Regions from separate parts of the Homo sapiens genome. Here region 1 is linked to region 2. A link means that fine-mapping ties the variant in region 2 to the expression of a gene that starts in the linked region. Tissue or cell type: whole blood. Region 2 holds a variant in brackets; the other region holds the start of a gene. All regions are shown on one strand. Distances are from middle to middle.

Region 1 (8,100 bases), 26 kb before region 2:
AAAGAATTCATCATGGGATTCCTATAAGTGGTGATTTTTTCCCCGATGTGTAAAAAATAATAATGAGGTAAAATTGATATTACACCTTTTATAGAAACCCATCTGTTGTGCAAAAAAAGCATGTGTATTTGGCTAAATACTGAAACCCGGAGGGGCACTGCTGTTGCCAGGAGCCAGCAGGGGCTTTGAGGGTGCCACCAGCTGCTGGAGGAAAGCAAGGAAATGGGCTGGCCCTGGTGGCTTGAGAGCAGACCTGGGCCAGAGTGCCTAAGAATTAAGAGCAGGACTGGGTAGAGACCACCTACCCACAGGGCAAATCCCCAAGCTCCACCCCCATGGTCAGAGAGTCCCATTGAGAAAATCTGGAGTGGCTTTGAAACAGCCCGGGGGCCGGCAGGAAGGCTCAGCGGAGAACCACACTTTGGGGAACACAGTCCTACACCTCTGCCCTCAGTCCCACTGGAAGCCCCGCCCCCACCCCAAAGACTGAAGCATCACCCAGAACCTGATGGGTGGAGAGAAGGACTGAGCAGGTGACAAGGAGAAGGGTGAGGGGAGCGTGCAGGGAAGCGGTACCGGCTGCCGACGCCGCAGCCTGTCTCTACCGTGGGCACACAAAAGAATCAGGCCGGTGCCCCCTAAGCCTACCTCCCCAGAGGGCATTCGACCCGGGAAGCCTCGCTCCCTGCTAATCATTCTTCCTCGCCCCTTCCAATCCCCGCTACTCGCTTACCTGGTCCCTGCGGGTCCCCCAGGGCCCGCCCCTGCACGCCCCCTCCTCGCCGGGCCTCCCACTCACCTGCGGCTCCGCGCGGGGGCGGTGGGCACCGGCTGGCCCTGGCTCTGTGCCTGGCTCTGCCCGGGCGGGGGCGCTGCTCGCTTGCGGGCGGGCTCCATGCCCGCGGGGGCCAGGCCGGGTCGCACGGCGGGGCTGCCCATGTACGGGGAGCCCGGGGGGCCCATGGGCGCCCCCTGGTGGGGCATCCGGGCTCCAGACGGCATCCCGGGGCGCTGGGGGTGGGCGGGGGTGAAGCAGAAACGGGCGCCCGTGGGTCAGACCAGGGCCCCCCGCTCCAGGCGCGGTGAGCCGGCGTCTCCCCTCCCCCACCAGACCCTCGGCTGGTGACCCTGAGCGTTGAGCGATGGGTGGGAGCGATGGGTAGGAGGGGCAGGGGCGCCGGAATCTGCGCGGCTCTGGCGGAGGGGCTTGGCGTCTGGCTGCAGGAAGCTAACTGAAGCCAGGCACCGCACAGGGCATTGCGAGCCTCGGGGCTGCGGAAGGTACCGCAAAAATGAATATTAATGGCGCCTTTCAACCTTTCAAAGATGTTCACATCCACATGCTCCTCTGCAAGACAGCCTGAGCAGGTCCTTTCATCCCCACTTGACGGATGGGGCCACTGTGGCTCAAGGAGAAAAATGACCTCGCCAAGGTCACACAGCTCATCCTGGCCCAGGCAGCCCCTGAAGGGCTGCCTCCTGGGGGCCCAGGGCTTTGCTCTCTGCGGCTTGGTTGAGGTCCGGTACCCGGCTCCCTGCTCCGACTTCTGCTCCTCCTCCTGCTCCTCCTTCTCAGGCTCCACTTCTTGGGCGGTTCTGCCTGGTACTCACTAGCTCATCTCAGCCACTCTGCTCCCTGTGTCCCTGCTTTTGACCCTTGGGTCCCAAACCCCACTCCCCTCGGCTGACTCCAAGTCCCCACATCCAGGGTCTTCGCTGACCAAGCTGCCCCCATAATTTGCTCCCAGGGTGAGGGCTGGAGGCAGGGCAGGCAAGGGCAGCCTGCTGGGGCGCCCCAGACACAGCCAGGATTCTCTGATTGGGAGGAGGGGAACTGCGTTAGAGGTGGGCTGCCCAGGGGGGCCTGGGGTGGGTCAGGGCAGTGACACTTGCACTCACATTTCCCTTCCTGTCTGCCCAGGTCAGCAGCCACCTCCTCCTCTTCCCATCCCCACCCCAGTGAGGTCAGCAGTCAGGGTTCATGGGGGCTGTGGAGACTGAGAGGAGGCGGCTCCTCCTCCCTTGCCACTACCCCTGGGTGGTCAGATGGGGTGTAAATGAGATGCAAATGCATCGAGCGAAGTGTTCCAAACCCCACTTGTCCAGACTCCAGAAGGGAGATGGGGAGGGCCAGAGAGAGTTTCAGGGGCTGTGAAACAGAAAGAGCGGGGTGGGATGGGGACTGGGACCACGAAAGCAGGAAGAAGATCAGAGGGCAGGGGATGCAGACCCTGGCACTGTTAACATGGACACACCACCCACCTCACCCCCAGGCATGAGGAGGGGCCCCCTTGGGCTTGCTGTTTTCCTTCCAACTGCTACCTCTCCCTCCTGGTCCTCCAGGCTCTGTGTCTAACCCTAATGTCCTCCCACCCTCGGTCAGCAGCTGTCTCTGCCTATCTCTCCTGCAGTGAAACCTGCCTGTCCATGTGTCTGCTTCCCTCACCCCACCTGACCCTGTCACTCAGGCCTCCAGGGTAGCAGCCCAGAATGGAGCCCAGGCCTGGCCACCAGCTAGGTGGGGCACTGGGGCTCACAGCCACTCAAGAACTGAAGCTGTAAGTTGACCAGATTAAAAAAACAGTCCACGTGTACAGCCTCTCCCCACTAGATGGGCCTTTTTAAAGGGGCTCCCACCAGCAGCCAGGTTAGGACTGGTAACTCAGCTAGCTGACATGGACACCTTGGGAAGTTACCCCCAGGGGTCCCTGGGGCTGGAGGACAGGCCACTCCAGGGAGTCCCCCTCTTCCTGTCAGCTGCTCTCCCCAGTTATCAAGGCCAGGGATACTGGCCCATCTGCTGAAGAGGCCCTGAGAGGGAGGCTTTCAGAGCCCCCAGAGAGCTGTGCCCGCCACCAGCCCCATCCCCATGAAAGGCCAAAATCCTAGGGACTCTGGCCTTACTGAGAGGGTGTCTTCCTTGGGGTCACAACCAAATTTGGCCATAGTAAACCCGACAGCTTCCTCTACACAGGGCCTCCACTCCCTCACCCATCCCAAGAGTCGCAGCCCCTGCTTCTCCCATTCCCCACCCCTCCATACCCCTCCCAGCCGGGCCCTACTGACTCAGCTCCAGCCTCCCGGGCTCCCACGTGCCTTCACAGCCTGCCTGTGGCAGGACAGTGCTCCCCTGTCCCTTCGGTCTCTAGGCCTCATGTCCCCAACTCCAGCCCCTTCCTTCACATGTTCGAGGAGTTAAGGACATCAGCTTCTGGTGGCTGAGTCCGCCAAGGAGACCCTCAGAGCCCCTAACTTGGGCTAAGTCCCTAGAGCGGTCCTCTCCCCCACCCTAAGGCAGAAGCTCCAGAGCCCTCCCGCTGGGATGCAGAGGTGGCTCAGCCTGCGAGCTTCCCGCTACAGTGCCTCCAGGGTCACCTGCTCCTTGCTCCGGAGACACAAGCAGTGACACTGTCCCAACGGATGAACAGACAGCCCAGCCCAGCCTCTGCCATGTCCCCATCCCCCACCCCCACCCCCAGGGCAGGGGCAACACCTGGGCCCACAAGGAAAAGAACGAAAGTCAACCTGTCGGCTACAGCGAGGACCCCCTACTTGGGGGGTAGAGTCCCCAAGTCCCACCCCCGCCCCTGACAAGAGCCATGCAAACGCCTCCCTTCCCCGCCTCGCGTCAGACCCGGCCGGCCGCCTGGCGACGTGTTCGGGTGCCAGGGCGCCAGCACAGTCCCGCGGCCGGGCCGTGGGCCATGACGCCCCCCACTAGAGGGGTGGGAGAGCGGGAGCGCCCTCCCGGCCCCTCCCGATCAGCCCTCCATTCAGCCCGAGCCAGCTCGCTTGCCCTCCCCCGCTAACTTTCCCCCACTCACCACCCCATGGACCAGAAACTCAAAAAGTTTGCTTTTCGTGGCTTTGCGCGCCCCTCCGGCAACTTCGTCCGCGGCCATCGGGGTGGGCTCAGCGGCTCCTCTCACTCTCTCTCTCTCTTCCTCTTTCTTTCCCTTTTCTGCCTTTTTTTTTCCTCCAACTCTCCCCTCTGAGTCCTGCTGGGCTCTCTCACACTTCTACTCGAGCGGAGTGGGGAGGGGGCCCCTTCAGGGCTGCCCTGACGGCCCACGGCCCACGCCGCCGCCGCCCGCCCGCCGCCGCCGCCGCCGCCGCGGCTGCCGCATTCCTGCACTGATAAGACAGAAATAGTCCGGCGGCCCGGGGTCTGCCTGTTGACTCGGCGGGGACGGGGCCGCCTGCCTTTCCAAGCCCGCTGTCCAAACAGCGCAGATAAGCGGCGAGGCGCGCCGACCAGCCCGGCCGCGGGCGCTGGGCAGCAGTGCTGCAGCCCGAAGCCGCCGAGGCCCGCGGGAGGCGGCGCGGGGAGGGGACGCCAGGGGAGGCGGCGGGGGGTCGCCGGCCACCGGCTCTCGCCACAAATAGTTTCTCCGTCAGGGAATTCGCCGGCCGCGCCAGGCAGGGAACAGTCAGTTCCAACTTTTCCCCCAGCGGCTCCTGCTGCATTTCTGAGGCCCTTTCCCCAGAGACCTGGCAGGCCGAGCAGGGAAACATTCGCTGGCAGGAACCGGGGGAGCCCGGCCCGCGAGGCCTCGCGCCTGCCCGGGGCCGGCGGCGGTGGGTGTGCCCGGGCGGCGGCGTGGCCCTGCGTCCACTGCTGTGTGTGCCCTTGTCTCACACGCCGTGTGTGTCCGCGCCCTTTTGTGGCGTGGCAGCTTATGTGCGTGCAGACAGACGCCCTGTATGTGTGCCTCCCTCCACGACAGCCTCCGTGCGCGCGCGCCTGCGTGTGTGGCAGGACATGGCCTGTGCCTTTCAGCTCTGTGAGAGGCTATTTCTGGGTATGTGAGTCTTTGTTTGCCGCTCTGTGAGAAAGTGAGGGCAATAGGGGAAGTATTTCAGAAAGAGGGACAGGGATTGTGCTCATGAGAACAGGAAGAGAATGAATGTGGGGAATGGCGCAGCGCCAGGGGGGTGCTCGGGTGGGTGCGTGGAGAGAACGAGGCAAGCTGGGCTTGGTTTCCTTGGGGTGGGGGTGGAGTGGGGTTAGGGGACCCAGAGGAGTTGGGGCAGCTGGGCTGGGTATAGTGGGTATATTGGGCCGGCCTCAAGACCCCAAAGAGAGGGGTCTTGAGGCTGGGGTGTGGCGTGGGGTGGCAAGGGAGCCCCAGAAGGGGCGTGTGGAAGGAGTTGGCAGTCCCTGGAGTGGAGGAGGGACCGGAAGGAGGAGGGGCAAATCCTGACATACCCAGGCAGGGAGTCCTGGGCCTACCCAGGTCCCCAAAGGCCACGCCCCTTTTTTCTCCTTCTTGGGGAGGAGCCGTGGGCTTTGGAACAAGGCCCTTGGGTCAAGTTTGGGGGTCTGCTGGGGCCTCACTGTGAGAATCCAGGTGAGGGCAGGACCATAGCCTAGTGCCTAGGGGAGTTTGTTGAAACACTTACTTGAAGTTGGGCCCTGAAGACTGAAGGGTACTGACCCTAAACCCTTCAGAATGCCTTTGCCCAGGGGGTCCTTTCTGCCTGCAGCCTGATTTCTGCTGGCCCTGGTTGTGCTCTTGGCTGTCACTGTTCATTTAGGTGCCCACTGTCAATCTGAAATGTCAGGGAGGACATCTGGTCCAGGTTGCTCCTCCACCACCCCTAGCTTGAAAGGGGACCTAGAGATCCCCTTGCTACCAAATCTCTCCCAGGGCTTTAGCCTAGACTACCCCCCACACACCCCCACACACAGAGCCTGGGCCCTGACACGGTGGGGATGGGTGGGTGGCCTGCCTCTGTCTGCCATAGGTCATGCTGCTGGGAACCTGGGGAAGTGACTTGCCCAGTCTGCCTGCTAACCTCCAGAATCCCCGCTCACTCCCATTTCTTAGCCCCTGCCCCCGATTCTTTTACCTGGAATGCCCTTTGCCTGCCCTCTGCCTTCCCTCTGCTTGTCCAAATCACACCTATTCTTTAAAGCCCAGCCCAGGCCCCACTTCCTCCAGGAAGCCTTCCTTCGTCCTACTTGTATGCAAAGATTTTTCTCTTCTCCAAATGCTCATTGCCATCTACCCAGCACCATGAATTGGCATTGGACTGGCCTGACGTGCACTGTGCTTCAAGGACATTAGCTTTGCTTTCCCAGAGAGGCTAAGGTCCCCATAAGGTCAGAGACTGATCTTTAACTCCCACTCTTCCTCCATGCCTGGGCACAGGAACTCAACAGTACCCCAGATACCTGATGCTTGCAAAGCTTAATGAGCCAATGCATGGAGCTGGTACTCTGCCATTTACCTGATGGTGTGAGTTACCATGGGCACCCCCACCCACCATGGGTGCGTCTAGCAGGGGCATGGGAAACCACAGGCCTTGGAGGTTCTGGGGGTTGGAGATAGACACCCCTAGGCTTTGTTAAAGCTCAGTGTTCTCAACTATTGGAGAGACCTTTTGGGAAAAGAAGACAGCAGAGGAGATGCTGGGCACTCCAGTTTGGGTAGCTGGGAAGTTTGAGGCAGGGCCTGGGAGATCCCGGGCTTGGTCTTGGTGGTGGAAGAGGTTGCGGGAGGTAGTTAGACGAGGGGCTATGGTGAAGCCCCTGTGGAGGAGCTGGTGAGCTTCACCCAAGTCCATACATAAGCGCTCTCCTGAGCCACCCCTCTGGGAGACATCCTTAAGTGTACACAGACAATAGATACACCTTGCACACACACCCTCCCAACACACACACAGCAGGCACACCAATACAAGCACCAAAAGGTCGAGGAAGCCACATGGCTCTGCACACACAGGCACACCTTGAGCACCTCCACATCCCGTGGTGGGCCCCATTCACAAGGCAGGCCCAGACACATTTGCGTACTGCTTTTAGGTGGGCGACAGGAGGAGCCTTCAGACCAGAAAGCTGGGGCGGCGCCAGTGTGGGGGCCCGGGCCAGGGCTCCCTCCTCACAAAGGCCAGGATCCCCAGTGGCTTAACCCCAGAAGGGCGCTCGGTGTGCCACGCCGCCGATGGCTCCTGCGGGTGGGAAGGAGGCCCGGGAAGAGCGTGGATTCCTCCCAGCGCAATAGGGCGCCCGCCGCACTTGGGGCAGGCCGTGCGCCTGTCGGGGGCGAGGGCGGCCGCCCGGCGCCCGGCGCCGCAGTCCCCCCTGCCGTCCCCCCATCGCTCCTTCCCTCGCTGAAGCACCACCAGCACCAAATGGCAAAGCGCCGCTCCCCGCGCAGGGAGAGATGCGCCGCGGCCTGCGGGACGGGCTCGGCCGCCTCGCCCCCACCGCGCCCGAGCGAGCGGGCGGCGGCCGGGGAGCTGGGGGGGCTCGGGCCGGCCCGGCCCGCGCCGCCCCTCCCTCCGCCCGCGCCGGTCCCCGGCCTGGGCATGCGCGCCGCGGCCTCCCTCCCGGTGAAGGTCAGCCCGGGGCCCAGCTGCAGGACTCCGCGGCGGCCGGGGAGGCGGCGGAGGGAGGAGGGATGCGGGGAAGAGACTTAACTCCTTCCCTGCGGGAAGATGGCCACCTAGGCCGGGCCCCAGCCGCAGTCCCGCCCTCCTGCCCTCCGTGAAGGTCCCACCACGGGGACTCCGCTCGGGGGGCGCGGCAGGAGGAGCAGGAGAGCGGGGAACATGGAAGAAGGGGCTGGAAGGAGAGAAGAGAAGCTGGCGAGGGGATAGGGAGGAAGGGAAGGGAGGAACAAAGGAAGCGAGACTGGAGGGAGAACGGATTGCTTGGGAGAGAGCTCTTTCCTCTATTCCCTTTTCCCTACACCCCCAGCAATAAAGCTCTCCTTAGGAGAATACGATCACCCTCACTGGGGCGGCCTGAGTGAGTGTGTGTGTGTGTGTGTGTGAGAGAGAGAGAGAGCGAGAGAACGCGAGAGGAGAGGGAGAGAGAGAAAGAAAGAGAGAGGGAGAAAGTGAGACCACTTGGCGCTGTGAGGACCACAAAGCCTTGGTTTCGGTGTTCTGGCCATCTCTAAACCAGGCCCCACTTTCCGCCATCCAGCCTACCTGCCCGGGCTAAGCACCAGCCTCGGGGGACCTCTGGCTAGTCCTTGGGGTCACGCCCAGCTCCAGAGAGGGAGGAGGGGAGACTACCTCAACCCCCGCCTCTGGTGACGGTCAGCAGAGGGGACGCTCCGAAGCCAGGCCAGGGGCATCAGGCACCTT
Region 2 (8,100 bases):
GCCTCACACATTTGCTCATTCATTCAAGAAATACTTCTCTGTACTGTGTGGAACAAGACAGATGCAGCCATGCCTTTAAGGAGCCCTGCAACTCAGTATTAGCCTCTTTGGTAGGTGCTGCAAGACAGAAGAGAGTGGGTGGGCCTTCACGCCCAAGCCGGGTGGGAGAAAGCCTCCCTGGAAGAGGTGGAACTGACGTGGAGGCTTCAAGGATGAGTGCAGTTAGCCAGGTGAAGGGAGCTGGGAAGGGTGTCGGAGGTGCAGGGAACAGCATGTGTGAGGGCCCTGAGTGAGGGCACGAGAATGAAGCCACTAGGAAGTGGAAGGCGGAACAAATCAGATTTGTGTTTAGGAAGCCCATTCTCGTTACTGTGCTGGGCCGGGGTCTGATGCAGGGACAAGGCTGAGTATGCGGCACTCAGATGGGGGCAGAAGATCACAGTGTGTGGACCAGGGCAGTGACGTGGGAAATCAGAAGCAGATGGAATTGACACTTATCTAGGAAATAAAATCAAATAAAAGGATGTGGCAGTTGTTCCAATGGAGAGGTAAGAAAGGGGGTGGACTTGGTCACTTCAGGTCTGGACCTGAGCCTCAATATCACTGTTTAGCAATGTGGCCCATCCACCCCACTGCAGAGGGGCCCTACTCCCTTGTCTTCATGTGTTCACAAGGAAACATGTACTGTATTCCCAGGAGAGGAGATACTGGAATGACCCTGGCCCTCTCCCCACCCTTCCTCCCTGTGGGAGGAGGCTTTGTCTGATGAGGTGGTGAGGGCCTGCACCAGCCGCACAATCCCTTTCCCAGGCGGGTGGGGTGAAGGTGCTGAAGGCAAGGCTGCTTACCCTGTGGCCAGCATTCCTCTTCTAGACGAGTCTGTTTTAGGACACAGATCATCTCCTTCTGTTCCCATGCCCAGGTAAGCAAACCCAGGTTAGGGAGTAGGACCTGCCTTCTACACTTGGGCCTCAGGTTCAAGCCTCTCTTCAGCTTGAATTTCCTTGCACTTAAGTTAACTGATGCCTGTGCCTGTTTTTCCATGGGTTCAGGACCTGTGGGGAAAGACCAGGACTGGTCCCTCCTCATACCCAAACTCACCTGTGGGGCCTGTGTGCTTAAGGAGCTCTTTATTTCCTATAAGGATATTACCCCTACCTGGAGAATGTGACTCTGTACTTAATTTCCAATTTTAAATAAACCTTCCTGCTGCCTGATATTTATCAGAAACATTGTTGTAAATATCAATATAGAGAGTATTTCCTGGCCAGGCTCGATGGCTCATGCCTCCCAACACTTTGGGAGGCTGAAGTGGGAGGATTGCTTGAGCCCAGGAATTTGAGACCAGCCTAGGAAATATAGTGAGACCTCATCTCTACTAAAATAAAAACAAAACAAACAAAAGCTAGGGGGCATTGTGGCTTACGCTTGTAGTCCCAGTTACTCAGGAGGCTAAAGCAGGATCGCCTGAGCCCAGGAGTTGGAGGCTGCAGTGAGCCATGATCACACCACTGCACTCCAGCCTGAGCAACAGCGTGAGACTCTGTCTCTTACAAAAGAGAAAGAGGGTATTTCCTGAAGGTAGCAATGCATTCCTCTAGTTGCTCCAAATTTTAAGTTTGGGTTAAGCAATATTACCAGTAGGTTTATGGCTGGGGAGTATTGTGTTGGTCCTTGCCTTAGCCCTAGGAAGCAGTTGTGACATTGTTGAGAACATTGCATAACTTTGTCACATGGTATCCCCTTCATTTCCTCATACAGGAGAGACCTCCCAGTGGCTCGGGACCAGAAATCACGTGATTTGAGCAAGTTGTTTGATTTTTATCTCATGCACAGTGTAAATCATGTAACTGCTTGCTTCTCTGCTGGCATCGGGGTCTCTGGGCCTCGTGGTTTGCATTTGGTGCAGTAGCCACATCCTAGGCAACACCATGTTTTCTCTACTCTATCTCTGTCTCAGTTTCCTCACTATATGTATCTTTGCAAACTACCTGAAACCCTTTTCAGGATGAGGCGGAGCATAAGAACACCTCCCTGTGTCTTCCTCTCCCTCCCTTATGGCACAGTGTCCCTCACTCTAGGGCATTTTCCCAGAACGATCTTCAGTCTGGGAAAAAGGTTCACATGGGAGATGGTCCAAGTTTGTAAGTTGCAGTAGGAGGCCTGTGTGGGGCGCACGCTCATGAGGCACGTTCTCAAATCCCTGGAAGTAAGTGTAGAGTGCCAAGAATCGGTGTCACAGCTTGGAAAGTCAAGAAACCGAACGCGCTATCCCAAAATGTGGGCCTGGCTGAAGTGATCAGCCCTCCTCTACGGTCCTTTATGAGTCACCAAGGATTCCCACACCCCTCATTAGCAAGGAGCACAGGGGGACACAGCAATGGTCCCTACAAGATGTCCCTCAGCCAAGTACCCGTCAGAGGCAGGCGGTGGCCTCAGCTTGGCCCCTCTGGTACAGCAATTCCAGATGGTTAGGAGTCCAGCCACAGCTGAGGGAAGTCCACTCATCCCCGATGGGTGGCTCAGCCTCCTCCCAGTGACACCTCTAGCTCATTATCTCCACCACTTAATTTTCACTAATCATGAGCACTCACTTGCAGTCACACCGCCAGTTTTGGGGTGAGGACGGACGCCTAGGCACCAGCACCAGGGCCTGTCAGCATCCAAATGCCCAAGTGCCTGCCTGGCTGCCAAGAGCCTGCAACGCACACCGCCGATTGCATGTGAATGCAACTCCAAGATAAGATGCCAAACTTCCACCACCTTGTCACTCTTGGAGCTGGGGCTTCTGACTCATGGCCAGGGTCACTCTGGGGCCAGGTGTCACTAGGATGGACCTACTGCCCCAGGGCTCCAGCTCCAATCTTCACAGGCCTCCTCTGCCCTCCTTCCCCTGTGCCCATCCTGCAGTGACCCTTCAGGAAAGGTCTGGAACAGCCCAAGGCTCCCTCCGACTGCTGCTGGGGAGCCCCTTAGGGCCTAACGAAGGGCATGTCAAATATTAGGAGGACTCTCCACGTGGGGGACCACTTCAGGTGCACCCCTCCAGGAAGCTTAGCTGCCTCCCATCAGCCTGCCCCCCGTTCAACCTGGCCTCTAACCTCAGACACCCCAGAACTGTAGAGTGCTTGGTTTAATATACTAGTTCTCACCTTTTCTTTATGAATTTCAGCTAAAACACCAACCACCACAAACTGAGCAACCAGTCCCCAGTTCACCTCAGGTGCTGGGGAGGTGTTGGGGATAAGGGTGGGACGTTTGCTTGGAGGCCTTGACTTTCCTGCAGGTGGACTGGGGCTTCAGGTGTGGGGCTGGGCATGCCGCCACCAGGTGTGTTTCCTTGGTGATGGGTACCAGGTGACTGGTGCCTGCTGCTGCCCTGTGTGGCTTGGATCCTCTGGGCCAGGCCAGCTTCCCCAAAAGCCGGTGCCCTGCCCCATTTTGCCCTGGGCCTGCACCTCACTGGAGGAGGAGGGGCACTGGGGCAGTTTGAAGGGGAACGGGGCTGTCCCTGGCCTTCAGAGCAGCCTGGCAGGAGGATGA[G/A]TTCCTCTGCCCACTTCTGAGGAAGGAGAAGCAGAGAAAGCACTTTCATTCTGCCCACAGCCCCAGGCCTCCCCGAGCCTCAGGCTCCTCTGGGCCATTTCCAATTGCACCTTTCCAGGACTTTCCTGATGTCTCCCTCCTCAGTGCTCTGAGGCCTGTGTGGTCTGTGGCCCTTTGTGCCCAATTGTCAAGGCTGCTCTCCAAGGCCGCAGGCCCTGAGGACAGGGACTGGGCTCCACATACCTTGAGGCCCTGCCAGTACCCACCCTGTTGCCAGGTGCCTCCCACCGGTGAGGCCAGCCAGCGTGATGATGGGTGGGGCTGGGCAGGCAGAGCTCAGACCAGACTTCAGTTCCGACCCCTTACCATGCCAGCTGGGGCTCTGGGGCAGGTGGCTTTTCTGCCCAGAGCCTCAGTGTGTCCTTCTGGACAAGTGGGGACTGATGCGGACAAATGCAGACCATCTTCCTCTCACTCCTTGAGGAGGAGGCTTAGGAAGGCCCTACAAGCAAGCAATGGCCCAGAGTGCATCAGAGCTAGAGGTCCGCCTGGGGCAGGGCAGGGTTGGCTCCCACTGCGGGCTGTGCAGTAGACGGCTGCCACCTCCCTCCTGCCACAAGCGGAACCCTGCCTGGGGCCCTGAGGGTTTTTAGAGGTTTCTGAGCACAAGTTGTGCCAAGGAATCAGCAGGTTCCTTCCAGCTCGCAGAGAGCATGTGGTGTGTGTGCATGTGAGCATGTGCACGTATGTGCACGCTTCTTCATGTACGCAGTGAGAGGAGATGGGGTGTTGTCTGGCTGTCTAGGTGGGGAGGAAGTAGAGCATGCCAGAGCCCAGACCATGCTCACATGAACCCAAAACTTGGTTTCAGGTAGCTTGTCCCTGGCTCAGAAAGGCTTTGAGAGGCAGGACCTAAGGACACCAGGAGGTGAGAGGACACGCAGGAAAGGGAGTGTGGGATGGAGGGAAGGACATTAATGACAGGTGTCAGCAGGGGTGGGGAGAGGGACAGAGAGGCCCTGCCATGGGCACTAAGGAGTCCAGCTGGGGGCAGAAATGCCGGGAGGGGGCCATGTGGTGGGAGCAGGAGCCGAGGGCTGGCCGACTCGCCATGGGGCCCCAGAGCTTCTGCTCCTGGGCTGGCAGGGGAGGAAGCACCTACCTGTACCACGGTGGGTGGGTGCTGAAGACCTGGAGTCATAGATGGCAGGGTCCTGCACCTGGAGAGTCATCCAGTGCCCCCTCGGTGCCTGGGCCCGGAGCCCACCGCGCCTGCAGCACCAAGGGCCATTCTGAGGATCTGAAAGGAGAGGTCAGACCCTGAGCCCCAGCGTAGATTCAAGGAGGCCTCGGGAAGCTGCGAAGAAGCCAAACTCCCCGGAGTGGAGGTCTGAGGAAGCCAGGACACTGTGCAGAAAAAAGGGCCTAGGATGGAGGCAACCAGCATGGGCCAGCTGGGGCTGGGGTGGCACAAGGCAGGGCGCAGGTGGGAGCAGTATGTGTGGGAAGCAGACAGAGACCGGCCCCAGGGTCCTGCGGGACAAAGAACTTGAAAGACAGAGCAGGGACCCCAGGCAGAGCCCAAGCCCTGACTGGAGAGGCCAGTTTTGGGGGTGTGGCAATGGTTGGAGGGAGAGAGCTGGGCATTGGAGGCAAAGGCCAGAGGGCAGGTCAGGATGGTAACTGGGATGGCCCTGGAGCCCAGGGGCATGGAGGGACTCCAGAGGTGGCAGGCAGGTAGTCAGCCTGCTCCATGACTACCAGCTGGCCTAGGCGCCTCCCTCCTGGTCCCTGCTAGTGCCTGCTCTGTCCTGTCCTGCCCTGCTTCCTTCCTTGCTGGAAGAGCAGGAAGGCCTCCAGCTCGTTGGGTCAGGACCCAACTTATGAAATGAAGTCCCTGAGCAGACGGTGGGGCATGGGAGCTAAGAAGAGAGCAGTGCTGTAGGAGCGGGGTGTGGGTGACAGAGGTGGGGCTTGGGAGTGGCTCAGGGTCTGGTTAAGCCATGTGAGCAAAAGAGGCTGCTGCCCATGGATCAATCCTGAGCAGGGTTGGGAGGAAAGGGGATGAGGAAGGAGGAGGCTGGAGACAGGGAGTGCTGGGGATGGGAGAGCTGGTGGGGTCCGGGAGACAGAGTGGGAGGGGAGGATGAGGAGAGGAAGATGCGGTAGGGGAGGGGCTACCAGTCCAGGGTCGGGGGGGAGGTGCCCTGCAAGAAGGTGGGGGACAGAGGGACAACCTGAATAGGAGAGGGGTATCCAGGGAAGACGGTGGCCAAGTGGAGACAGAGAAGGTGCCAGGCAGGGGAATGATGGGAAGGTGCTAGGTAGGGGAAGGAGGGAGAGGATGCCAGGCAGGGGAAGGAGGGAAGGTGCCAGACAGGGGGAGTAGGAAGCAGAGCATGCCAGGCAGGAGCAGGTTGAGAAAGTGCTCGGCAGGGGGGAGGTGACAGGCAATGGGAGGAGGTGGTGCCAGACAGGGGGAGGAGGGGAAGGTGCCAGGCAGGAGGGTGCCAGACGAGGGAAGGAGGGGAGATGCAGGTGGAGGGAGGATAGGAAGGTACTGGAGAGGGAAGGAGGGGAAGATGCCAGGCAGCGATGGGGAGGAGGTGGTGTCACAGAGGGGCTGAATGGGAGTCTGCCAGTCAGGGAAGAGGTGCAAGGAAGGGGTAGGAGGAAGAGGTACGAGGTTGGGGTGGGGGTGGAGGGAGGTGCCAGGCGGGGGGACGGAAAGAGTCAGGAGTGGGGGGAGATACCTGGAAAGGAGGAGGGGAGGAAGATGCCAGGAAGGGAGAAGGGGATGCCAGGTAGGGAGGAGGGGAAGTGCCAGGTGAGGAGAAGGTGCCAGGCAGGAGAAGGAGGGGGGATGCCTGGCAGTGGGAGAAGGGAAGCCAGGCAGGGGGAGGAGGGGGAAGCCAGGCAGGGGGAGAAGGGATGCCAGGCAGGGAGGAGAAGGGATGCCAGGCAGGGGGAGGAGGGGGATGCCAGGCAGGGGGGAGGAGGAGGAGGAGGATGCCAACAGAGGCGAGCAGAGACTGCCAGGCAGGGAAGGCGGGGGCGCCGGCGCAGCGCGGCCGGGAGGCGCCTTCGCCAAGGGCCGTGGGGGCCGCGCGGCGCGGGTCGCTCACCTGCTCCCCCGGGACCCCGGCCCGGAGCGCGGCCGCCCGCTCCCTGCTCGGCGCTCGGCTCGGCCCGGCGCCTGCGCCGCTGCAGCCCGGAGCGGGGGAGGCGCAGGGAGCGTCTGCAAAGAGCGAGGAGCTTAATAATGAGTTAGGGACCGGAGCAGGAAGCGTCGCCCCATCCAGCCGTCGGTGTGCTCGCCAGCTCGGAGGCCCTCGGCGGGCCCTGGCCAGACCCGTTGTGATCTTCAGCCTGTACACAGATGTGTCGTAGGCCTGTGCTTGCATCTGCACGCCCACGAGTCACACACGCAGTCAGCATCCTGTGTGGCCGCAGACATCACCTACACTAGGACCACACACGCGCATGCACGTGGGCGCGCACACACAGGCACACAAACGGTTGTCCTCACACAGATTCAGTCAGATCATCCTATGTGGCTGCAGACATTACCTAGACGAGGTCCCGGACACCCATGTGCACCCCCCACCCCCTCAAAACGCACATACCCTGGGAGGCTTTGGGTCCATCAAGCCTCAGGGCCATGTTCTCACTAATGCCAATCTCCTCCTTTTATGTACTCAATACTTAAATTTGGCAGCTTGGAGAAGCCTATTCCCAGCTTCCAGCCAGACAAGCCCAGCTCTGGCCATCTCATGGGCTCTTCCAGGGCCCCGCCTCACACGGCTGAGCTACCACAGTGCCCAGCACAGAGGGGGACCCCAGCCTACCTGCAGAGTGAAGGAGCCCTAGAGAGCTCAGGCAACGGCGGGGGAAGTGGGAGCACCTCCCTAAGCAGCCAGCGGGCAGGGAGCCTGCCAAGCATTTGGGGCCAGGTGGGCCTCGTAGGCCCCCAGTAGGAGGCAGGCAGGCAGCAGGGACCCATGGTCTGAGGCTGAGGTCAAGGTCAGGTCCTTCTCCCTCAGGTTCCCGTCTCTGCCCCTGCCGATATCCAGCCTCTCCCCCAGGCCAGGTCACACCTTCAACACTAGGGGTATTTTGGGGTCTGGGCTCTGCACTGCCTGGGTTTGTCTCTGTTATGGGCAGGCCCAAGGCAGAGACAGAGCTTTTCCACCCCTTCCCTTTCTGGTATCTTCCTATCCTCCCTTCATCTGAAAATATTTCTGTTTTATTCTTTTAATTTTTTTTTTTTGAGATGAAGTCTTGCTCTCGTCCCCCAGGCTGGAATGCGATGGCGCGATCTCGGCTCACTGCAACCTCTGCCTCCTGGGTTCAAGAGATTCTCTTGCCTCAGCCTCCCAAGTAGCTGGGATTACGGGCACCTGCCACCATGCCTGGCTAATTTTTGTATTTTTAGTAGAGACGGGGTTTCACCATGTTGGCTAGGCTGGTCTCGAACTCCTGACCTCAGGTGATCTGCCCGCCTCGACCTCCCAAAGTGCTGGGATTACAGGTGTGAACCACCACACCCGGCATGTT

What was found. PIP is the estimated chance that this variant, and not a neighbour inherited with it, causes the effect.
Region 1: it holds the start of SMARCD3, and the variant in region 2 is fine-mapped to the expression of SMARCD3 in whole blood (TOPMed, PIP above 0.99).

Annotation. Positions count from the first base shown.
Region 1 is chr7:151,244,661-151,252,760 of GRCh38, forward strand. It overlaps SMARCD3 (SWI/SNF related BAF chromatin remodeling complex subunit D3), which reads right to left and starts at 4,034. Exons shown (of 13, transcript NM_001003801.2): 1 at 3,825-4,034; 2 at 800-1,011. The coding sequence starts at 3,902. RefSeq lists enhancers at 1-552, 553-1,126, 1,127-1,701, 1,702-2,275, 7,555-8,100 and silencers at 789-1,088, 1,109-1,188, 2,263-2,557, 4,605-4,694.
Region 2 is chr7:151,270,409-151,278,508 of GRCh38, forward strand. It overlaps a transcript of SMARCD3 not described here. Among named protein-coding and RNA genes, the nearest start is that of SMARCD3, 26 kb to the left of the region's middle. RefSeq lists enhancers at 4,262-5,061, 7,215-7,924. The variant G/A (reference allele first, on the strand shown) is at 3,544.